4 linked regions of the Homo sapiens genome follow. The protein of the gene in region 4 purifies or fractionates together with the protein of the main gene of each other region. This does not show direct contact. Each region holds a gene or a part of one and is shown on either strand. Other genes may lie near its edges.

Evidence for each region.
Region 1: the proteins of EIF4E (region 4) and EIF4A1 purify together in Homo sapiens (affinity purification with mass spectrometry; 9 studies listed by BioGRID and IntAct, with this or other methods). This does not show direct contact.
Region 2: the proteins of EIF4E (region 4) and ANGEL1 purify together in Homo sapiens (affinity purification with mass spectrometry; 5 studies listed by BioGRID and IntAct, with this or other methods). This does not show direct contact.
Region 3: the proteins of EIF4E (region 4) and DDX3X purify together in Homo sapiens (co-immunoprecipitation; 3 studies listed by BioGRID and IntAct, with this or other methods). This does not show direct contact.

What each region holds. Positions count from the first base shown.
Region 1 is NC_000017.11:7,575,801-7,579,519, reverse strand, and holds the end of EIF4A1 (eukaryotic initiation factor 4A-I), read right to left. Parts: intron 2,997-3,719; coding exon 2,828-2,996; intron 2,710-2,827; exon of another isoform or gene 2,562-2,709; intron 2,465-2,561; coding exon 2,355-2,464; intron 2,177-2,354; coding exon 2,033-2,176; intron 1,952-2,032; coding exon 1,814-1,951; intron 1,694-1,813; coding exon 1,604-1,693; intron 1,566-1,603; exon of another isoform or gene 1,429-1,565; intron 1,356-1,428; coding exon 1,276-1,355; intron 1,179-1,275; coding exon 1,034-1,178; 3' UTR 514-1,033; downstream 1-513. UniProt on the Homo sapiens protein: ATP-dependent RNA helicase which is a subunit of the eIF4F complex involved in cap recognition and is required for mRNA binding to ribosome.
Region 2 is NC_000014.9:76,802,855-76,809,891, forward strand, and holds part of ANGEL1 (protein angel homolog 1), read right to left. Parts: intron 6,790-7,037; coding exon 6,205-6,789; intron 5,295-6,204; coding exon 5,068-5,294; intron 4,649-5,067; coding exon 4,579-4,648; intron 3,996-4,578; coding exon 3,562-3,995; intron 2,149-3,561; coding exon of another isoform or gene 2,031-2,148; intron 1,562-2,030; coding exon of another isoform or gene 1,521-1,561; intron 1,059-1,520; coding exon 932-1,058; intron 628-931; coding exon 517-627; intron 1-516.
Region 3 is NC_000023.11:41,344,162-41,350,811, reverse strand, and holds the end of DDX3X (ATP-dependent RNA helicase DDX3X), read right to left. Parts: intron 6,574-6,650; coding exon 6,413-6,573; intron 5,633-6,412; coding exon 5,488-5,632; intron 5,409-5,487; coding exon 5,264-5,408; intron 4,584-5,263; coding exon 4,402-4,583; intron 4,308-4,401; coding exon 4,190-4,307; intron 3,954-4,189; coding exon 3,800-3,953; intron 3,501-3,799; coding exon 3,361-3,500; intron 3,173-3,360; coding exon 3,093-3,172; 3' UTR 538-3,092; downstream 1-537. UniProt on the Homo sapiens protein: Multifunctional ATP-dependent RNA helicase. The ATPase activity can be stimulated by various ribo-and deoxynucleic acids indicative for a relaxed substrate specificity.
Region 4 is NC_000004.12:98,884,130-98,891,166, reverse strand, and holds part of EIF4E (eukaryotic translation initiation factor 4E), read left to right. Parts: intron 1-3,214; coding exon 3,215-3,278; intron 3,279-3,974; coding exon 3,975-4,088; intron 4,089-4,620; coding exon of another isoform or gene 4,621-4,713; intron 4,714-6,105; coding exon 6,106-6,245; intron 6,246-7,037. UniProt on the Homo sapiens protein: Acts in the cytoplasm to initiate and regulate protein synthesis and is required in the nucleus for export of a subset of mRNAs from the nucleus to the cytoplasm which promotes processes such as RNA capping, processing and splicing.

The sequences.
Region 1 (3,719 bases), on a different chromosome or scaffold from region 4:
ACCTCTCTCTTAGTCATTAGTTTTTGTAATTAAGTTAGGGGACTGTTGGCCCTGCTTCATCAGGGCAAAGTCAACAGTGTCACATGGGTGCAAACGGAGTCCTAGGGCAGTTGATCCACAGGGATCCATGTGTCAAACTCAGCGAAACTTGCTTGGCAGTTGTGGCAAGTAGCTATGGGAACAGCTGAGGTACAGGCCCCTCCCTTGGTGGGGAAATCGGTTTCCACTCCTTTCCCCTGGACCTCTGGGCTGACCCCTGTACTACTTCCTCTTGGCTGAGGCATGTGAGGGGCTTGTGACCATCCACACCCAGCCCTTTACAGAGGGGCAGCACTCCAGTCAGCATTGTCATTCACAGAGCCGAGAACATGGCTTTCCAGCGTCTGAGAACTCAGATGGTGACAAGAAAGCAACAGCCCAAAGGTAACCATCTGCTGGGGAAGGGGGGAGCAGAGATGCACCCAGTAGCAGGTGGGAGAGGGAAGGGGAGGTAAGAAATGAGAAGCCCAAACAGGCAGTTTCCAAGTCATTTTATTCAGAATTTTGTGTTTGTTTCCTGAATCAATAAATACTATACAAAACAATGTAAAAATGGCTACCATTTTCTCTCCCCTGCTTCCCCCCACCTGGGGACAACCCCCTGGGCAACCTCACTTAGGGGTTTTAGGGGTTCTCCCTCCAGATTTGGTCCAGCAAATGAGGCTGAGTGACATAGTCCCTTGAATCACTTTCAAAGGAGCTCAGCTGAGGTGAGGAGAGCCTCTGGGATCTGGAGGTTACTAGGTTAGGGAAATGGATTAGTGTTTTTTTTTTTTTTTTGGGAGAAGAGCCGGCGCCTGGGGCAAGAGCCTACCCCAAAGAAAAGGGTGTCTAAAATGTTCACGGTTCCTTCTTTTGCCTCAAAAAGTGACATTTATTCAAAGAAAAAAAATGACAAGATGTCCATCCCTTGGCTCCCTTCCCTCCCCCCTCCTGCTGCTCCTCAGCCCCCAGAGATTGAGCCCTGGCTGGGGCTGGGTGGCAGGACAGCCCCTCAGATGAGGTCAGCAACATTGAGGGGCATTTCCTCAATGGAGGTGTTGTAGAAGGTCTCAATGTCTCGAAGAGTCCTCTTGTCTTCTTCTGTCACCATGTTAATAGCCACACCTTTACGGCCAAACCGTCCACCTCGACCGATTCTGGAAAACAAGGAAGGGGATGAGGAATATCAGGAGCTTTAAGCCCAGGGAGGGCCAGGTGTGAAGGGGTAGGGGAGTGTTCCAGATCTACGCTTACCTGTGGATATAGTTTTCCCTGTTGGTGGGAAGGTCATAGTTGATGACTAAAGAAACCTGCTGCACATCAATGCCTCTGGCCTACGTCAAGAAAGACAACTCTTCAGCATGTGCACGGAGGACACTCTATCCCGGAGGGAAGACACTTAGGCATCCATGTGGGCAGCCAAGGAAGGCAGAGGAAATAAGCATCCCAGTTCCCCAAAGGCCTTAGGCATGCCAGATTCTATTCCAAGCTGCTACTTTCCTGAGAGGCACTGATGTCCCCTTGGAGAGGGAATCACCTTGGATCCTCCCTTCTGCCTTTGCTATCAGTTCCCTCTACTCACCAGCAGGTCAGTGGTAATCAAAACTCTGCTAGAGCCAGAACGAAACTCCCTCATAATCACGTCTCGTTCCTTTTGGTCCATATCTCCATGCTGGAAGAGAAAACAAATATGCAGCAGACCAGGTAGGCACCTGGGTTCCAGGAACCCTGGCTTCAAGTAGGACACTTCTGACGGGCAGACCCACAACAGGCTGGCAGCGGGCAAACACACCATGGCGGATACAGTGAAATCTCGAGCATGCATCTTCTCGGTGAGCCAGTCCACCTTCCTCCGGGTGTTGATGAAGATGACTGCCTGGGTGATGGTCAGGGTTTCATACAAGTCACATAGTGTGTCCAGCTTCCACTCCTGGAGGTTGGGGGACAAAAATCAGTCAGGGGCTATACCCAACAACTCACTACCAGGCCCGCCTCCTGCACTGGGCCCCACCTCTCGTTCCACGTTGATGTAGAACTGGCGGATACCCTCCAGGGTCAACTCTTCCTTCTTGACAAGAATCCGAATGGGGTCCCTCATGAACTTCTTGGTCACCTCAAGCACATCAGAAGGCATTGTGGCTGACAGCAAAACTACCTAGTGGAAAAAAAGGCCAGTCTTAGAGTGCTGGTTCCTTCCTGAGGCCTGCTCCCTTCCCTAGCCACACCTAAAACTGAAGCAGATGCATAAAAAGGCTCAAGAATCCAGTATATGGTTCCCCTGGCACTTACTATTTTTCAAGAATCATTAGCTATTCAAGCAAGACTGCCCTCACCTGGGTGTTGCTGTTGAGCTTTTGGAATATGTCATAGATCTGGTCCTTGAATCCACGGCTTAACATTTCGTCAGCTTCATCCAGTACAAACATCTTGATGTATTTGGGGGCTAGAGAAGAAAAAAAAAGCCAATATATAGCATATGATTAGGGAAATGTGGGAGAGATATATCCAACTTCGCTGATAAAAAACAGAGAGGAGCCAAGTAGTCTGCTCTCAGAGTACAAAGACTGATCCTTTGCCCAGGACCTTCCCGCCAGGCAGACAACAGCCCTGGGAAGTAGGACACTGCCAGGGCTGCACTGGCAGGGAAGCCAGAGGCTCAGATGACACGCATGGGCTCCATCACAGAGCAGCTCTTCCCCCAGAGAGAAACCAGCATCCTTGGGAATGACTCTGGCTTACGCTGAAAGACTGGAAAGCGTGCACAAGAGCAAAGTGACCCAGGGGATTGGAGAACCGAATTACTCACACAGGTATCTCCGGTTAAGCATATCAAACACACGGCCAGGGGTACCCACGATGATGTGGGGAGCTTCCATCTGCAGTTTCTGCACCTCAGCACGCACGTTGGTGCCCCCGATACAGGCGTGACAGGAGGCGCCCATGTAGTCTCCTAGTGCCATGACCACCTTCTGTATCTGAGCAGAGAGAGGCAGGTGCTCATATGTCAGTTACCACTGTGCCCGGCACCATTCTTAAATGTTTTTCATGTATTGATTCCTAACCAACAACTTTGGGGCATGCACTATTATTAAACTCACATTCAGCTGAGAAACAGGCAGAGGCTAAAATCCACTTAAGATCGTGCTGTCAATAGGTGGCAAAGACAGGATTTCAACTCAGTCTGGTTCCTGAGTGTACAGTGATTCACAATGAGGCCGCTCAGATAATTAATTCAGTTTCTTTACTCTAGATATTTAGAACCCTTAACCTTCTGAAAACTAATTTGACCAACTGCCTCATCACGCAGCAACCATTTTTTTTTTCTTTTTTTGAGACAGAGCTTTGCTCGTTGCCCAGGCTGGAGTGCAATGGCACAATCTCAGCTCACTGCAACCTCCACCTCCTGGGTTAAATTCTCCTGCCTGAGCTTCCCGAGTAGCTGGGATAAAAGGCACACGCCACCATGCCTGGCTAATTTTTGTATTTTTAGTAGAAGCGGGGTTTCACTATGTTGGCCAGGCTGGTCTCCAACTCCTGATCTCAAGAGATCTGCCTGCCTTGGCCTCCCAAAGTGTTGGGATTATACGAGTTGAGCCACCACACCCAGCCAGCAACCAGTTTTATAGAACAGGTGATGCATATCCATGTCCTATTGCACTCCTGCCATAGGACCCAAGCTACGAGGCATGTTCACTCTG
Region 2 (7,037 bases), on a different chromosome or scaffold from region 4:
ATCTTCAAATTTCCCAGTTTTGTCTACAATGGAGTTTACATTTCTTTTTTCCATTCTCCTTGTTGCTTTGAAGTGGTTTCAGAGACAAGAAGGGGAGAATGTCAAGTATACTCTGCTATATTCAATCTGAAATTTCTCAGTAGGAACAACTTTTATTAAAATCAGAACCACTGTCACCTTATGATTTTCAAAGCCCCATCATGTGTAACTTCTCCCCTATATATGCTGTACACATGCTAGTCATTAGCAACTTAAGCTTAAAAAGGTTAAATGGCTTACCCAAGCTCTCAAAGCTAGTTACAACCCAGGTGTCTTGATTCCTGGTCCGGCACTCTTATCACACTGCACATCCATGCAATGGCCACTGAACTCAACTAACCTTCCTTCTAAATATACGTATTACCAGAAGCTAATCTCTAAGAATTATACTTAGAAAAGAGCAGGAAACCACATAACTGACCAATATCAGGAATGAGGAAGAAAGAAGACCAAGAAACTGGGATTAGTTCCCATTACCTGGCTTAGTATCTGTCACTCCTTCCATAAGGACCAGTCCTACTGGTCGCTGACAAGCGATGCTGCAGAAGCGGAAACGTAGCAGGAAGTCTCGGCCATACTTGCGTCTCTCTGTAAACCAGGAAAAGACATATAGTGAAAGAAAGACGATGAAGCCACATGCTGAGACCTCCTTAGTACCAAGCAACTTCCAGCATAGGTACACAGAGGAAGCATTCAGAAGACAAGGAGATTTTCCAAAGGCTATGATTTAAAGTTGTCCATTTCATTGGACAGCCATTGGGAGGATAGTGAGAAAACAGAGGAATCTGCTAAGAGAAATGAGGGATTACACTTTTTCTTGTCGTTGAGACACCAGCTTTCTCCCAAAATGGGCATGAAGACACAGCCAACCAAGAATGTGACATGTGCTCACCTGATCTCTTGGGGTGACAGGAGGTGACATACTGACAGCAATCAGTGATGCCCAGGGAGCTGGGCCACAGTGGGGCCTGCAGCTTCCTCTGGTAAAGCTGATGGGAGAAGTCTTCCTGTCCAGATACCTGGGTGGAAAAAGAAGGGTGGGAATAAGGAAACCAAGATAGAAAAAGGAAGTAACAGCCCATGTTTTGGGACATGTGGACAAATACAAACACATACAATCACACACTACGTACATGGTATAAACAAGCATATAAGTCTCAGGGGCAGGTTAAAAATAAGGACCAAATTAAAACCATTACTTTTTCACTGGCAACACTGAAATGTCCATGAAACAGGAGGAGGGGTAAGAGACTGAATCAAGGGGAATCGAATAGTATGAACATGTGGTTCCCTAAATTTTACCTCTGAAAAATCAATACAATTCTCCTCCACAGGGAATATCAACTCTCAGGGGCTTTAAGTTGCAATGGTTAAAGGTTTATCCTCATCTTTGGATCTTCTGGATCAAGGTCTAATATCCTGAACCTATTACTGGGTAACCACAGGGTCAAACCAAATGGGAAAGCACCAAAGCACTTTACCGTATCTACGTCACCATCCTCGGTCAAAGCCAATGAGCAGCCTGGGAACGGACAAAACGTAGTAGGGGAAACATTCGGCAACATCAGTCATCTGCACATCTCCAACGTGTGTAGCAAAAGTCCCTTTATGCCATTTAACAACAACAAATATTTGAAAGCCAAAAGACACTAGCTAGGTGCTGGGGATAGAGCAGCAATAGACAGAATCCCCTTGCCCTGTAAGGGCATAAATTTTCAATATGTCATCAGAAGTAAAACAGATCTGCAATTCAATGGCCACTTAATAGCTGTGTGACTTTTGGCAAGTTAGTTAACTCTCTTGGGTTCAATATCTCCTACTATAAAATGGGATAGGCCAGGCGCAGTGGCTCACGCCTGTAATCCTAGCACTTTGGGAGGCTGAGGTAGGTGGATCACCTGAGTTCAGGAGTTCGAGACCAGCCTGGCCAACATGGCGAAACCCCGTCTCTACTAAACATACAAAAATCAGCCGAGCATGGTGGCACACACCTGTAATCCCAGCTACTTGGGAGGCTGAGGCAGGAGAATCACATGAACCCAGGAGGCAGAGGTTGCAGTGAGCCGAGATCGTGCCATTGCACTCCAGCCTGGGCAACAGAGCGAGACTCTGTCTCAAAAAATAAATAAATAAATAAATAAATAAATAAATAAATAAATAAAATGGGATAATAATACCATGTACAATTAAGAATCTTAATAATCACTACCGGTTACTGACTTTGAGCCAGATACTGGAAAACACTTTACACGCATTATTTTATTTAATCCACCCAAAAAAACACCTCTGAGGCAGGTCCCATTATATCCCCCATCGTATAGATGAGGCAAATGGGGTTCAAAAAAGTTAAGTAATTTGCTCAAGGTGGCAGAGCACGGATCTGAACTCAGGACTGTCTGGCTTCAAAGCAAGTGCTCTCATTCACTATGCCTAACAGTGCCTGTCATGTGGCAGGCAGTCAGTAAATTCTTTTCCTCGTTCCCTGAGTTCCTTGATTACAGCTCCTTTAGGGCAAGATCATGCCTTTCTCTGCACACATCTGGCTCATTTACATAAAATCCCATGTGCGCAACAGTAATACAATCGTTTTGTGTCCTTCCACCATTGTGCCTTGCCAAAAGTTAGTCAATAAATTGAAACAGTAGGGGCAAAATAGAGGAACAAGGAGATTAAGTGACATAAAGAAATCAGCACAAGCTGATAAAACTACGAGGTGTTTGTCATCAACACTCAACAGTTAGAAGGAATGAGATCCATATGCAAATTGCTGAGTGAAAAAAAACAAGCTACAAATGAAACATACAGTAGTGTATCATGTTTATAAAACACACATGGTAGATTACATATTGGCTGTTATAAGCAATGACAGCACAGTATTTGAGGGTAAGAGCTCTGCAGCCAGACCACCTGGTTACAAATCCTGGCTCCACCACTAACTACCCGCATAACCTAGGGCAAATTACTTCACTTTTCTGAGCTTTAGTTTCCTCATTTATAAAATGGAAGCCATGATGGAAACTGTGAAAACTAATTAGTTAATGAGTATAAAGTGCTTAAAATAGCACATGGCACACACTTAAGTGCTTAACAAATGTAAACACTGATTACAATATCATAGGAACATAGATATCACTGTAAATGCAAAGAAAACAAGCTAAAAGACTACCACCAAACTTAGAACGGTCATTATGTTACTCTAAGAGAATAGAATAGGGAATGTGGGTAATAAAACAGGCCTGTGTCTTACTGTATAATGTTTAAGTTCCTTCAAGTATGTACTTACGTATTACTTGTGAATTAAAAATATTAATGATAAAAACTGAAAAAAATTCCAATATGCCGAAGTACTCAAGAATTCTTAACTTCCAGGCTTGGGTACAAGCTATTCAACATAACAAGAAAAAGGAGGAGCAGGCCAGAGCAGGTGTACTGAGGTCCCTGCCACAGAAGAAGCACTGATGCTAACGCCTGAATCTCTCTTAGACCATGTTCCCACCCACACCGTGGCCTCTCCCATTTCACCTTCCAGGCTGGCATCCCATGGTACTGGAGCTCTCCATCCCTGATGAAGTTGTAGAGAGGTGAATCAGGGACAGAATTTAGGTCCCCGCACAAGATGATGGGGCAGTGGCTGCCATCTGACAGTCTGGCCACCTTGTCCACTTCCGCCAGGAGAATGGCCATCTGGGCCAGCTTGACATCGCCCCGGCGTGGGTTGTAAAGGATATGGGTATTTGCCACACACAGCGGGGCCACCGAGACTTGTCCCAGGCCTTCTGGGACGAGTGGTTGCAGTAGCAACACTAAGCCCACATTATCCCGATTAAGTAGCTCCAAGCCAGGCCGGAAGTACTCCACAGGGCTAGCACAGAGCAGGCGGAATCTGGTAGGCTTGTAGCAGACAGCACAGCCATCGGTTTTACACCCAGTCCTCCTCTTGTAGAAACAGGTAAAGCCTGCAAGGAAAATCCCACCAAAGAGATGGGTCAGAGTCCTTAAAGCCTGAATCCCTTCCAACCAGCACCAGCAGTCCCAGTGTATGCCCCTGAGGCATTGTTCCTGCTACTCAGTAAAGGAGCCTTTGCCACTTCCTTGGTTCAGCAGGTTCCCCCTTACATCGTAACCAGCTGACTGAGGGGCTGGAAGGGCAAGGAGGGAAGGGTATGAAGCAATGTAACATGATAGAAAAGAGCACAGAATCTAGAGTCAGACAAGCTGGATTCCTAGCTCCACATCTACTAGCTTTGTAGCTTTGTGATTCTGAGGAAGTCACATGAGTTTTCAGAACTTCAGTTTCCTCATCTGTAAAATGGGAATAACAGTCTCACCACATTGGTTACTTCAAGGATCAAATAGCAATGTATGTCAGAATTGCTATAAAACTGCAGAATTCTACTTTCTCAGGCACACATGGAAGGAGCTAGCTCACAGGTGAAACTGAGGGTTTACTAAGACAAAAGGAAAGGATGGGGTCTTCAGGAGAGAGTAGACAAGTCTGTGGAAAGAAAAGCTGGCAAGCATCCCAGGGAGCTGCATTACCCATCATTCGCAGAGAGGGTTCCAGCTGCTCCCAGTAATGATCTTCCTGGACTTCCTGGAGACACAGGATCTGGGAAATTGACAAGAAACCCAATCACTCCAGAGTGCTGGAATGTGACCCCCACCCTCTAGGAGCAGGTCCTGAGGCCAGGTGGGAAGCTGCTGGGTCACACTGAAACTTCCCAGAGTCACCAACAGCAAGAACAGGCCCAGACTTAAGCTGAAGAGATTAGAGATGTGCACTGGATTTTCCTGCTCCTTGAATCCCTCAAGCCTCCCTTCCTGCATAAAGGTGCTGGGAAGTGCACATCTAGGGAGATTCTTCTCAGCATCTGCCAACAACTCACTGACACCAGGCAGGCAAGCTCCAGCCCTAGATAGGACTCCAATCATTTGAACAACTATGGGTTGAACTCATCTTCTAAGAGCACTGGGCAACAGCCCAGGTCCAGCAACAATGCAAGATGGCAATTCCCCCTCTTCACTCACATCAGGGTCCCAGTGCTGGAATTCCTGCATGAGGTTCACGAAGCGATAGTTCCAATTGAGGATGTCTGGATGGCAATGTAGATAGAGCTCTGAGCTCTGCTGCATCAGGTCCTGAGCCAGGATGTTATAAGACATCAGAGTGAACTGGAACTGAGGGCCATCTCCTGCCTTCAGGCCCTGAGCATCTGGCTGGGTGGAGAAATCCTCCCATTCTCGCCACAAAATTTCTGCAAAGGATTGGGAGAAGCACTCAATGGCAAGTATGAGTAATGCAGAGGTGCTGCCATCTCCACTCCTGACTCAGTAATATTATGCCTGAAGTTCCTTTTTCCATCTTCCCTGTCACCCATCCCTCTCTGTGGGGAATTGATTTCTATGGACATTCTTCAGATGACATGGTTAGCTCCACAAGGCCAGAGACAATCTTGGCCTGCTCACCACTACATCCCCAGCACCTAGCATCTAATAGATGCTCCATATATGGAAGCTGACACACTCTCATTTTTGATAAATCCATGAATCTCCGGAGAATCACTCAGATGAGTGTGCTTAACAGTCACCTGAGGTTAAAGACATTTTTAGAGTAATTGCAGCCCTGGGTGTTTTCTGACCCCTAAACCTGGAAGAGTCTGTGGGACTAGAAACTATGGTGTGTCCCCATCTCCCCTATGGCATGTGGCAGCATAGTGGATTTCAAATCTATTGACGCCATTCTTCAAATTTTAACGGACTCTCAATATACAACACAAATAAAACTGAGGTAATTGTGACTGAGACAGAGACTAGAGGCCCTGAGACCTCTCTATCCCTACCTCCAGAAAGCCCTAGGGTTACCACCAGAGAAATGACATTGTGGAGAATCAGAACTAGAGTATGCTTTCAGTTCTTCCCCTACCTGGCTTTATGACTTTAGTCATGTTCTACTACCTCTCTGCACTCTGATTATTTCACCTTTAAAACCATGGGGCTGGATGAGATGATCTGTAAGGACCCTCTAGATCTGACATGCCAAGATTCTTAGAAAAATAGAATGCAGTGGCAGAGCTCCCTACCATAGAATCTTCTCTTTAGCAATGGCTCTGCCCACACCTGAGACACCCTGTTCCCTTGGCTCACTCAACCAGTTGTCAGACTCACCATGATATGGTATTTCCACTGCGGGAGGCTGCAACTGCCCCAGGCCCTCAAAGGGCCAGATGGAAGCCTCTTCCTGGGGCACAGGCTCAGGTGCTATGCTCCAGGCCAACACCGCTGGGTCCTCTTCCCACTGCTCTGTGGCCAGGGCACCCACTGGGAGGGCAGCACAGTCTGCATACTGGGGCTCCGACTGCATGGGGATAGCTGCCCACATGGAGCCCTCCACCCCCTCCACCTCCAGCAGTGGCTCCTCTCCTAGCATCTCAGGGAAAGGCTCATCCAGGTTCTCTGCAGCCCGAAGGTCACTCAGCTGCCTGCTGGACCACCTGTCCTCTGAAGCAGCATTCTCTTCTCCAGGATTATCCATCAGAAGTGCCAGGCTGCTCTGGGCTAGTCCTTTATCTATAAGGGGCCCCTCACTTGCAGTTGAGAGCACCTGGCTCAACCCTTCTTCTCGCCACTGCTGCAGCAGGCCCTCACATTCCTCCTGCTCAGGGCCCCGAGGGGCCATGGCAAAGTCGCCCTCTACCTGGGGGGATGAGCTGTTCGCCAGAAGGACATTTTTTCGACATGTGAAGAAAGCATCTAGGAGGAAAGCCAAAATACCAGGTTATAAGACTGTCATCCAACCCACACTATTCTCCCAGCTAAAACATAAGCCCAATAAAAGCAAGACCCATATCCACCTTGCTCATCATTGTACCATCACTGAGCCTGCCTACCTTAATGCCTGAACATCATCATCATCATCAGGGCAAAGTATTCACTATGTGCCAGGCACTGTTCTTTACAAGTGTTGACTAATTTATATGGCAGGGATCTGATAAATATTC
Region 3 (6,650 bases), on a different chromosome or scaffold from region 4:
ATTGCAGCAGTGTGTACAGTAAGCATAGATGTCTTATTACCTGTTTTCAGAGATAAGGTCTTGCTATACGTTGCCCAGGCTGGACTTGAACTCGTGGGCTCAAGCAATCTTCCTGCCCCTCAGCTTCCAAGTAAACTAGCACTATAGGACTATGTAATCATCACACCTGGCCCAAATAGTCTTGATTCCTTCCCTAAGTATATACTTACCATCACTTGTTGGACTACTGACACACTTGACTTTTATCCTGCTCATTCTTCCACTGTTCAACCATCCTTCATAATAGATACTTCAAAGAACAAAGAGACTCCCACCCATGTCAAATTGTTCAAAGTATAAGCCAATTTCTAATACATGCTGTATTATCAGTAAGGGCCTTTTAGATTTCCGTCTATTACAAAAATCCTGTTTCACTGTATTTCAAACTAATACTATCTTCATCTTTCATTGCAAATACTTATGGTATGAGTCATTCTGTATCCAAGAGGCATCTCAAAAAATAGCACTGGATGACAAGCAAAAAATAACATTTTACAATTTTTCAGGCAAGAGCACTTTATTTACACCTCTGAAAATAAACCACAATTGACAACAACAAAGGAGACTGTGCAGTTCAACTTTTTATTTTAATAAAATCAGAATATGCACAGCACATGCAGTGCTAGCATCTAAACTAATACAATAAGCAATTACTAAAGCTACAGTGACTTGAGGTTCAATCTTTACATTCAGCAAGTTTAAATCCTTACATGATTTTTGAAACCTTATTAACTGAAAATATTGCTTGCTGATAAAACTTGCTCAAATGCTATTGCTGAATGTACAAGTCACTGATTATGCCAATACAACAAAGATAACCACATGTTTGAGGATTGCAATGTGCCAGACATTCACTGAAAAAAAAAAAAAAACACACAACTAAACAAAATCCACACAACAAACATCTGAGAATCTGGACACTTCACATCAGTGTTTTGAAGTGTTTCATTAATATCTTAAGACAAGTGTATCAAAACCTTGGCATGATTTAATTTCAAGTCGCCAATTTTGTTTTTACTAACATCAGAAAGTTATGGCTACACTGCCAACGCCGGGTCTGCTTAATTTGACTTAAGAGTTTAATATGACTTAAACATTAAAAGCTCACACTACCCCGAAATATATAATTTCACGCATACGGTGACATTCAACATTCAAGTGCCAGTGTTTTTGTACTGTCTTTTGGTCAAGTTTCTTTAAACTTTCAAAGAATCACTTTTAGGCTTACAAAAATAAATATTTGTCAAAATGTTCAATAAATATTACATAAAACTAGCAGCAAAAAGTATCTAGAAATCTGTCGTGTGCAAATAGTTTTCTTCCCAACTATCATTCCCATGGTCCCAAATAAATTTTAGAATCTAGTCCCATCCCCTTCCTAGACAAGCTGCGTTCAACAATCTCCAAGAGACAAAGTAAGATTGGAAGTTTAAGGACACGCACACAAGACATATATATAAAATTCTCTGAATGTGCAATAAAAGAAGTACTTTGTAAAAAGTTATGGGCAAAATGTACAAGGGCCTAAACCTAGACTAATTGAAATAGCACCATAACAAATGACCTCAATACTGTCAAGTGCACCTACTTAATAAAAGTTTTAGAACAAGGCACAATACACTTGAAAATCTATTGCACTTTAGGAAATTTTTGCCGTCTTCCTATGCCACTGTAAAAAGATGGAGCGTTTTGATCACCGCATTCTGGCCACAAAATTAGCACAGAATTCAAAGTGGCAGAGGCATTTTAGTGGTGGACAATGCTCATCTTTGGCCAGATTTAGCATAAACAGACTATAAATACAATGGAAACCTATGCAACTAAAACTGACTAAAACTGCACTGTAGAGCAGAATTGACACCTTGTGCAGTTATGTACATATTTCCAACCTGTGTGATCTCAAAGATTTCAGTTTGTTACTCTTCTGGAGCCATTTTTACGAAGTCTATAGTAAGCCAGTTTAACATCTCAACGCAGCTTGAACAGAGTAATGTGAATCGGCATTTAAAATAAAGCCTGCTGCATTTAATTCTTCCTGTTCATACCCTCTTGACCAAAAAACATCAACACTAGCATGCGTTATTAGACCAAAAATCATCCAGGGCCCTAATGAGGGCTGGTCATTGCTGTGGTCAGCCATTCTACCATTTCAATTTCATTTATGGCAGGCATTTAAAAAGTCTAAGTAGATGAATTCTCCTAAAAACCTATTTCAAGTTATCAGACCTTTAAACTTTCCCTGTAATAGTATGCCCACATTTGGCTAGCTCATAATTAATGATCTGCCTAAACGTTGAAAGAGGAATTGCTGTATTTACTTGCATTAACTTTGAAAACAGTGCTTTGAATGTATGCATGTATTCATACATCACCTCATCATGACTGGAATGGCTTAAAGACTATCAGGTTCTAAATACCTATCCAGGATAGAGTGAGCAAATCAGAACTTTAACTTAATACAGTTTGCCACATTAGAAACTAATTCCATTAATATGCTTCAAGACATTTGTTGTTTTCCCCCAATCTGCAAGTATCAAAAAGCCCTAATGCAGGCTACCGCATAAGTTTTTCCTTATATTATTTATGGATGAATCGATGATTCCTGTTAAGTTGTATCACACCTGTGTGCCAAGGTTTGATTTTAGCCCAAGTTCAGTAAATTTATTTTGTCAAAACAATTGATATCTTGAGCATTACTGAGCCAACAGGACATCAAAATAAAAAGTTGTCTAAAGTTAAAGGCACAGTACATTAACAAACAAATGATCCTCAGTCACAAAATTATAAATGCAGTTTGGGATGGGGGTAGGCGGGAGGGGAGTTAATCCAAACTACAGCAATGAAGTCTTCAAACCACCTTCTGAACAGGGCTGCTGATTGTTCCTTTCATTTCTTCTTGTGACCTTGAGCTCCCTTAAAAAAAAAATTTCAGTGGAGAATCACAGCTGGTAATGTACTGCGAGTTCTTGAAGCTACACAAGGTATAGTCTGGCTAAGTTACATGTGGTTTCCATATTAGCTTGTTTGGCAGGGTGACCTACTGCAAAGCAGGCTCAGTTACCCCACCAGTCAACCCCCTGGGAGTTATAATTTCCTCCATATCCATCACTGTTGTAAAAGCCTCCATAGCCACCTAATGAGAGATTTAAAAAGAGAGAGAAATTAATGAAGTTATCCATCATTAAATACAATCCTTCCCTTACGTAATTTGCCATCAAGTTTCTATAGTGCTGAACTTAAATTGTTTAATTAGGCTTTGAAAAAGATGACTAAAAGGAAAAAAACCCTTCCCAAAGCTATGAAGTTACAGATTAACACTACCTCCACCAAATCCTCTGCTGCTACCGTGGCCACCTCCGCCACTGCGGCTGCTGCTTGCGCGGCTGCTGCTGAAGCTGGAACTGCTGGCACCGCTACTTTGTCGGTAGTCTCTGGCACCAAACCCTCCACTAAATCTGCTACTATAAGAAAAAAATTATGTTGGTTCACATGAAGATGAAATTCCACTAAAGTAACCTAACTCTTTCCTAATGACCAATTTCTAATTTTTCCATTCAAACAATTCCCCATCCAGCCATATTTTCCCCAACAGAGTGTCACCCATTCTAATACAACCCCTTACCAAAGAATCTAGGAAGCCTAAGATGATTAAGCTTTTTAAATACTGTACAGTTAACCTTGGACGTTATGCATGCAGAGGAAACACTATGAACTGTAAGTGAACACCCATTCCCCTCATTATATACTATTTATACCTCACCTCTTAGAACGTCCACGACTGCTACCCTTGTAGTGGTGTTCATAAGCCATGTTTTCTAACCAAGACGGCACTTCTTGTTTAGCTTCAACAAGAAGATCCAACAAATCCTTAGTAATATTTATGTTCCTCTCGTTAAAGAATGAGGTTGCCAGGCCTAAAAGAGTTCCCAAAAAAGTATATAAACAAAGGTCTTCCATAAAGTAACTTGCTACTATTCTTACTTTCCTACGTAGAAATATTTAAAATATTACCACGTAATATTTAAACAAGTGCTTTGAGCAAAATCTTTGTCACTTTCATTGTTAAAAATGTATTTTAGATCCTAGCAAGTTCTTTCCTGCACACATCACAGCAAAAAACAATGAAACCATCAAGTAATCAAATACTTACCAAGGTTTCCTACACGTCCCGTACGACCAATACGATGTACATATTCTTCAATATCACTTGGCAAGTCAAAATTGATAACATGTTTCACATTTGAAATGTCCAGTCCTCTTGCTGCTACCTGGAAAATAACTTTTATGAGATATGGCCCACTTAAAAGAAAACAAATACTTGAACATGCTCAATTTGAATAAAAGAAAGATGTTTATACATACTGCTGTAGCCACTAAAATTGGGCTTTTTCCTGAGCGGAACTGGTGAAGGGCCTCTTCTCTATCCCTCTGAGAACGGTCTCCATGGATGCTGGTACATGCGTATCCTTCATGGTATAAGAAATCCTCCAGAGAATCTGCACCCTTTTTGGTCTCCACAAACACTAAGGTCAGTGAATCCTTGCCTGTCGTTGAAAAATTATAGGTTTTTGTCACTAACATGGCTTAGTTCTCTTTGCACTTATGTATGCACAATTTTAATGTGTCAATTAAAATACATATATATCTTCTTAAAAACGGGCTTTCAACACAGCATGTTTTGAATTGAGGAGGAAAAGTAATAAAGGTAATCCAAATACATTTAAGAGATGGGGGTCTCACTAAATTGCCCAGGCTGAGAGTGCACTGGCCATTCGCAGGTGCAATCATGGCATACTACAGCCTCAGCCTGCCAAGTAGCTGGGACTACATGCACTGTACCACTGCACCCAGCCCAAATGGGTTATTACCAGAGCAATTAAATTATTCATAATTTTAGCTGGGTGCAGTGGTGAGTGCCTGTAGTCCCAGCTACTCTGGAGACTGAGGCAGGAGGATTGTCTAAGTCTAGGAGTTCTGGGCTGTAGTGTACTATGCCTATCAGGTGTCCACACTAAGTTTGGCATCAACATGGTAACCTCCCGGAAGCAAGGGAGCACCAGGTTGCCTAAGGAGGGGTGAACAGGCCCAGGTCAGAAACAGAGCAGGTCAAATACTCCCATGCTGATCAGTAATGAGATCACACCTGTGAATAACCCCTGCACTCCAGCCTGGGCAACAAAGAGAAACCCCCATGTCTAATAAAATAAAAAATTCATAATGTTACCTGTTGCATTTAGGAGGTCAAGCAGAAATGACCGTTTGTCTGATTCTTCCACCCAAACTACTTTCTGTGTGATGTTTTCAGAGGTAGAGCCAACTCTTCCTACAGCCAAGAAGATATATTCATCTAAGAAATCACGAGCCAGCATCTGAAAGAAAAAAAATTTTTATTATTACCTGAGATAAACAAATTTCTAAATAAATAAAATTTGCAACATCAAACAGTACCTGTATTTCCTTAGGAAAAGTAGCACTAAACATCATAGTGTGGCGGACACCCTTTGGAGGCATAGTATCTTGTTCGACTATTCTACGAATCTGAGGCTCAAACCCCATATCCAACATCCGATCAGCTTCATCTAACACCAAGTATCTGTCATGTCATGAAAAAAAACAAGCCTGAGTTTAGAATTTGAGGAGAAATCAACATGGTTTTAGTATGGCTGTTAGTATAATTACAAATACAATTGTATAGGTTATTACAATTATATATTCATTAAGATGGTGCCTCACACTGCATAATTTTACAGACACAGCACAGGATTCTTGCCACTACATAAGTCATTCAAGATTACACAGTCAAATTAGCCCATCCTAGTTGACTGTCCCACGAGCTGATCATTGTTGTAAGTCTCAACCAAGATGTTACTGATTTTTCAACATTAAAATTACCATGAACAAGCTTTTTGTGAAAGTTAGATGTCTGAAATACATCACTTCTCAGCCTTAACATTTAGACAATGTTAACATCACCACAAAACTAATGGGCAGTAACTTTAATACTGCATCCCATACATTTAAAAATTAACATACTTGGCCGGGTGCGATGGCTCACACCTGTAATCCCAGCACTTTGGGAGGCCAAGGCAGGCGGATCACCTGAGGTCAGGAGTTCGAGACCAGCCTGACCAACATGGAGAAACCCCGCCTCTACTAAAAATACAAAAATTAGCCCAGCGTGGTGGCACATGCCTGTAATCCCAGCTACCTGGGAGGCTGAGGCAGGAGAATCGCTTGAACCCGGGAGGCAGAGGTTGTGGTGAGCCGAGATCGCGCCATGGCACTCCAGCCTGGGCAACAAGAGCGCAACTCTGCCAAAAACAAAAGAACAAAACAAAACAAAACAAAAAAACAAAAACAAAATAAAACATACTTGCAAAAGTCTAATCCAATCTTTCCTCTTTCCATCATATCCACTAGACGTCCTGGAGTGGCTACTAACAAATGGCATCCACGTTCCAAGTCTCGAATCTGCTGACCAATATCGGCACCACCATAAACCACGCAAGGACGAACTCTAGATCGGTATGAAAACTATAAGCAAAAAAAATGTTATGAACTTCAAGGTCAAAATTTTTACATGTTCATAAAACATTTAATTAGAATCAATG
Region 4 (7,037 bases):
TTCACAAAATGAAGTGTGAGTTAAACAGTTAATGAATGTTCATCTATTTTTTTATCTCCTCACAAAAGTTTGAATTGGTGATTATGCTTTATTAGTTTTACAGAGCTTCAATCTTGTCATCCCCCAGCCCCAATTATTGTTTCTTGTCCTGAGATATCCTTAGCTCAAGAATCCATTATTGCCCTTAGAACTTTTGACAGCTAGTTGGAACTTGTTCCACTCCTGGTTGCCAAGATACATTTGCCTCATAACTGGGTATTGCAGTGCGTTGTTGGGTCCTCATTTCTGCAAACTGTTTTCAGTGCAATATCTGGAATTTCCTGTACCAGAGATTTTAAGATATCAAAGGCTGAAGTGTTCAGAATTCACGGTTTGTCAAGGCAATGCCAGTATCTATCATGATACTTTATTCATTTCATTATACTTTGATCAACCTCAAGAAGAATAGTTGAAATATTTTTGAAATTTTGTTTCTGTATAGCAGAAAGTTAAGAATTGGGATCATCAACTTTTGCATGACCTTAAAACAAAATTTAAGGCTGGGCTCAGTGACTCATGCCTGTAATACTAATACTTTGGGATGCTGAGGCAGGAAGATCACTTGCAGCCAGGAGTTCAAGACCAACCTGGTCAACATGAGTCCCTGTTTCTCTATAAAATAAATAAAAATTGTAAAGTCTATTTCAAGAAGTTTTGATAATTGATTCTCTTAAAAACAAAGTTAATCCAGTGTGTCTAATTTACTTGGAGAATGACTAGGGAGGTACTATTTGAGACCATGAAAGGCAAAACTCTTTAATAAGCACTTTAAATTACCTAGCAGTTATCTAAATATTCTAACTTGTACATCTTTTTTTAGGATCATATACATGCTGAATTAGTGATGCTACTCTTATGTTTTAATGTAACCCCCTCAAGATATTCTGCTCATACAAAGAAATAGATTGTGGTATAAAATTTATACATATGTATGTACATCTTCAACAGCAGAAACAATATTTTTCTGTATATTTCCAGTGCTTGGCTTCTAATAGATATTTTGTATTCATTTGTGTTGCTGAAAAAAGCAAAGCATACGATTAAAACCATAAACTTTGAGAGTATTTGAGAACATTCATTTGAGAGTAAACTTTGAGAGTATTTATTTTTTATTAAAAGCATTGACACTTAATAATAACTACATTTAAGGCCTAATAATTTATAGGTCTAGTTTTCTAGTTAAACTAGGATTATTATTCTTTGCCCATCATCAAAACATCAAGTAGTTTTTCTTCTCTAGTTTTGTTTATTCAGGACTCTTAAATAACTCCAGTCTTCTGCACCCCCCAAAAAAAAGCTTTTCATTCTCCTACAGAGAAAAAGGAAGCCTTGAGCCACCTTCCCCAATCAGATTTGCATTTATCTAGTTTGTTTGGCTTTTACCAGTTTACATAATTCTACCTTCTAATTAGAACAGTTCTCCATGCTTCAGTTACATGTAGTCAATGTCATTACATAGTAGGTTTTTATACCATAACTTAGAGATATGAAGGATTTTTCAGTTTTCTATAAATGTGTGGGCCACTTCCTAATTTCTGTTTTTTTCTAGCAAATTTATTGCAGATAACCATTGAGTCCTTTTGTATTTATCCAGACTGCATAGTCTTAGGATTCTGTTTAGATGTGCCATTATAAATTCTCATGATGGACTTACTTGAGAGACCTTTGAGCACCACAGAAGAGAAAGGAGGCAGCAAAAGGGAAAAAGTATTTTATTGAAGGTCATTCCCACAATATCCATTCATTTTATGACATTAGTAGCGCTAATTTTATAGTCACTTAGTATCCCGTCTTTTTTTGTTGCCTAGTGGAGGCTGTCATTGATGATGTAGTTGGGAGTTACCATTAGGTAGTGACTCAGCAAACCTTATGTGGTCTTAGGTTGTCTCACCTAAACTATATTTGTGTGTTATACTATGGAATTTGATTTAAAGATGCCAACTTCTTTCTTAAATCTTTTTTTTTTTTTTGAGATGGAGTCTAGCTCTGTCACCAGGCTGAAGTGCAATGGGGTGATCTCGGCTCACTGCAACCTCCGCCTCCTGGGTTCAAGCGATTTTCCTGCCTCAGCCTCCCTAGTAGCTGGGATTACAGGCGCATGCCACCACGCCCGGCTAATTTTTGTATTTTTAGTAGAGACAGGGTTTCATCATGTTGGTCAGGCTGGTCTCGAACTCCTGACCTCATGATCCACCTGCCTCGGCCTCCCAAAGTGCTGGGATTACAGGCGTGAGCCACTGCACCCGGCCCTTAAATCTTTACCTGAAATATTCCTAGATGGGGTTAACATAGCACCAGGAGAACCAGACTAAGGATAGTAGAATCATCCATGGTCTGTAGACACAGCTAAGATCATTATTTCTGCCATCTAATATTGGAGACAAGCAAAAGATTCTTAAGAGTTGCCAATTTTTAAATCAATTTTGCTGTAAAAGACTACAGGAGATCAAATGATCTAAGCCTCCTACCTTCAGGCAAGCAACTAAGTCATCGCAAATGTTATTCTGTTATTTTGATACTTGGGAAATAGTTTAGAAATACAGACTGCAGGGTTCCATCTTATATTTAGGTGATTATAATCCCAAGATGTAGGGCTTGTAACTATATTTATTTATTTATTTTTCTAAAATCAGTTTTAAAATGATTATTATGTTGACTAACCAGTGACAGTTTGTGGTGTTTGGGAACCGTTGATCTATTCTACTCTTGGATACCTTCAAGGATAATGACTGTTTCAGTCATGCAATCCTGATGGTCAGGAAGTTCATCGTTTCTGGTTTTTGTTTTTGTTTTTGTTTTTGTTTTTTTATGTTTGTGAAAAAAACTGTGTATTAACTTCAGAAATTATTTCATCTACTTAAAGCCACCTTATACCTCTCTTCTCAGTTTCTTATATATATACATATGTATGCACTGAGTTAACTAACATAAAATATATTTTTGTCAGAGCAGTCACTAGAAGTTTTTTTGAAAATTATACCTGTCATCTGAAGTTGATTATTTAACTGCTTTTAAGATCTGTTTTGTCCATTTTAGAAATTGACTCCTTAGAAACAAGTAAACATGAACTTTTATCTGTTTATTTTCATCATATGTTCTAAATGTATATATATGTAAGCACCTAAACTCTATATTACATATTCTGTGTTTTTAATTGTTATTTTCTTTTACCTAGTCTGTACAACCATATCCAGTTGTCTAGTAATTTAATGCCTGGCTGTGACTACTCACTTTTTAAGGTATGCTTAATTGGTGATTTTATATATTTATTATAGGACTGGGCCATTTGGTATTCATTAAGAAATCTTACCATAAACTTAGGAATATTTGATAGTGTGATGAATAGGCTGATAATTTAATTGGCTGTAGTATGCTTTAGTATCAATATATCTTATTCTATTTGTTTATAAAAATTGAGAGAGAGTTACTCTGTGGGCACATACTGAGATTGATTTTGATGAGAGCTTTGATTATCCAGTCTACTCCTTCCTTTATATATTTGAGCAGACTGAGTTTATCAAGCATTCTTAACCTTAGGAGCATGGGTCCTTGGAATACTTATTATTGGGCTTTGTCAGTTGGTAGAGGGACGGGACATTCATTAACTGAAATTGCATAGTTTTTGCATGTATTTTCTAGCTGTAGAAATGTACAGAGCTTCTAAAATATGTTTGCTTCTCAGAAAGTTTAAGAACCTTCAAATTAAGTGAAACCCAAGATTTGATAGCTAATAAGTGACAAAGCCAGGACTCTAATTCTGCAATGTCATGCCTCTGGCTTTAAGTCTTATGTGCTGTTTAAAAACTACATCAATGGCAGTTTTATGGGCAATAAAGTAAGAAGTTGACAGTGTTGTTGCTTAACTGTTTCTAATGATTATCTCTCAAAGTCAAGGTAACAATGTTGTGTAATACTGTTGTCTTCTAACCCTGTAGGATGGTATTGAGCCTATGTGGGAAGATGAGAAAAACAAACGGGGAGGACGATGGCTAATTACATTGAACAAACAGCAGAGACGAAGTGACCTCGATCGCTTTTGGCTAGAGACAGTAAGGTTTTAAAAGTATAAAGCAGTTTTAGAGGTAGTTTTGGAATACTGATACTTAAGATATGTTATGTTTTACATTTGTTACTTAATTTAAGAGAAGGATGCCCAACACTAGAAAATCAGGGTCAGTAATTATTTTTGTTCTGTCATATGACTCCTGTTTATAGTACAGTGAAACATCCTACCACATTATAAGTCAGATATTTTAAGTGATTGGCAGTTGACTCTCACCACAGTAAGCTCACTGTGGTCATTTCATTAACCTCAAAATTATAGAACCTTACATTTTGTATGATTGAAGTTTTTGCAACCCTCTTACAGCATTGCTATATGTATACTAAACTTTTAAATACTTATATTTTTAGAGCGAGGGTCTTGCTCTGTTGCCCAGGCTGGAGTGCGGATATTTATTTATATGGCTCATTTCAGCCTCACCCTCTGGGTTCAAGTGATCCTCCCACTTCAGCCTCTTAAGTAGCTGGGACTACAGGTGCATGCCACCATGCCCAGCTAATTTTCTAATTTTTTTCCAGAGATGGGATCTTGCTATGTTGCCCAGGTTGGTCTCAAACTTCTGGCCTCAAGTGATCCTCCCACTTCAGCCTCCCAAAGTGCTGGAATTACAGGTGTGAGTCACTGTGCCTGTCCCACTAAACTTTTTAGATTAGTGAAGCAAATAATAAAATTGTTGTGTACTACCATTTGACCTACATGTTGTGATATTAACTGGAACTTCTGGCTTTACAAGACAAATTAAATATGAGATAATAAGCATTTTCTGTAGACAGAGGTTCCAAACCCCAAGCTTATAGGAGCGGGGTTTGTAGTCTCTTTTGTATCCCTAGCACTTGAAACCGTGCCTGGTTTATAGTTAGCACTTGTTAAGTTAATCACTTTAAATGTTTGAATAAGTGACTATTTTGCTTTTTTTTAGAGACAGGGTCTTGTTCTGTCGCCCAGGCTAGAGTGCAGTGGGGCCATCATAGCTCACTGTAGCCTCCTGGGTTCAAGCAATCATCCTGCCTTAGCCTCTCAAGTAGCTGGGACTACAGGTGCATGCCAGCACAGCCAGCTAATGAATGAATGACTTTTTAAGAAGAAAATTCTGTTTTTGAGGGGGAAGATCATGAGCAAATACCATTTTTGAATTCCACATTAAAAAGTCAGGACATTTCCATTTTGCAGTTAAAAAAAATCTTCTGGAGATGGATGGTAGTAGGGATGGTTGTACAACAATGTTGAATGTACTTAACACCACTGAACTGTACACTTAAAGGTGGTTAAAATGGTAAATTTTATGTTATTTGTATTTTACCACAATTAAGAAATCTGTTAGGGCTGGGCTCACACCTGTGATCTCAACACTTCAGGAGGCTGAGGCAGGCATTTCACTTAAACTCAGGAGTTCAAGACCAGTTTGGGCAACATGGCAAAACCCTGTCTCTACAAAAAATACAAAAATTAACTGGGTATGGTGACATGTCCCTGTATGTATGCCCACCTACTCAGGAGGCTGAGGTGGAAGGATCATTTGAGCCCAGGAGGTTGAGGCTGCAGTGAGCTGTGATGATCCCACTGCACTCCAGCCAGGGTGACAGAGCAAGACCCTGTCTCAAACAACAACAACAACAAAAAACCAGACCATTAACAAATATTCATAAAAAATAAGAACAAGAGGAGATTAACCATGAATAGCTATTTTTATTATTCTATTAATATTTGTTTGCTCATAAATATAAGCAGCAGCAGAGCAAATGAATATTAATAAAATCAGCTTTTATGTCTGCCATGACATTAACTGCCAAATTTGCTGAAAAAGGCTGATTTGATAGTAAATAAATGAATGAGTATTTAAAAGTCAGGACAGATCAATATATGCAAATAAAATTTACACATTTAAAAAATTAACTCTTGATTTAAAAACTGCCTTTAGTTTCTATGCAAATACAGAAGAGACATTTGCAGTGTAATGAGCTTGTTTATAATCTATTAAATGTAATTTGGGATTTTTTTTTAAGCTTCTGTGCCTTATTGGAGAATCTTTTGATGACTACAGTGATGATGTATGTGGCGCTGTTGTTAATGTTAGAGCTAAAGGTGATAAGATAGCAATATGGACTACTGAATGTGAAAACAGAGAAGCTGTTACACATATAGGGTAAGTTTTGCTCTTTGCCTACTTATTTTACAGTATTAAGATGAGTAAAACCAGAAGTTATTTTATTTGTAGCTTTAGAAATACTTCAGTTTGTAGATCCTGTTTTCCTTGTATTGTTTTCGTGAACACTTTTATAATTTTGAACGGCTCAATTGGTGCGCAACGTCTTGTTTTTTTGGGTTTTTTCACAGCTATTTATTTATTTATTTATTTAGAGATAGAGTCTCACTCTGTTGTCCAGGCTATATATAGTACAGTGGCATGATCTAGGCTCACTGCAACCTCCGCCTCCCGGGTTCAGGAGATTGTTATGTCTCAGCCTCCCGAGTAGCTGGGAATACAGGCGCATGCCACCATGCTTGGGTAATTTTTATATTTTTAGTAGAGACCAGGTTTTGCCACGTTGGCCAGGCTGGTCTTTTAACTTTTGGTCTCAAGTGATCCGTCCACCTCAGCCTCCCAAAGTGCTATCATTACAGGCATGAGCCACTGCGCCTGGCCTTTTTCATATGTTTTTTATTTCTGTAAAATTGCTTTTTCTTAGCAGTGAAGTATATAACCACTAGAGCACTCTCCTTTGGCATGTAGCATTTTTTATTCATTCACAAATGAGAATGTATTATTTCCTACTTTGAAAGTGCTGTTTGGAAAAAAGTACTACTTTGAAAAGAGCTAATGTATGCTCATAATAATAATTCAGTGATTATTGGCAAATAGTATATGTGCATTTAAAGCATGTGTGTTTACTACGTATAATTTTCATTAAAATTTATATAACATATCTTGGTTTTT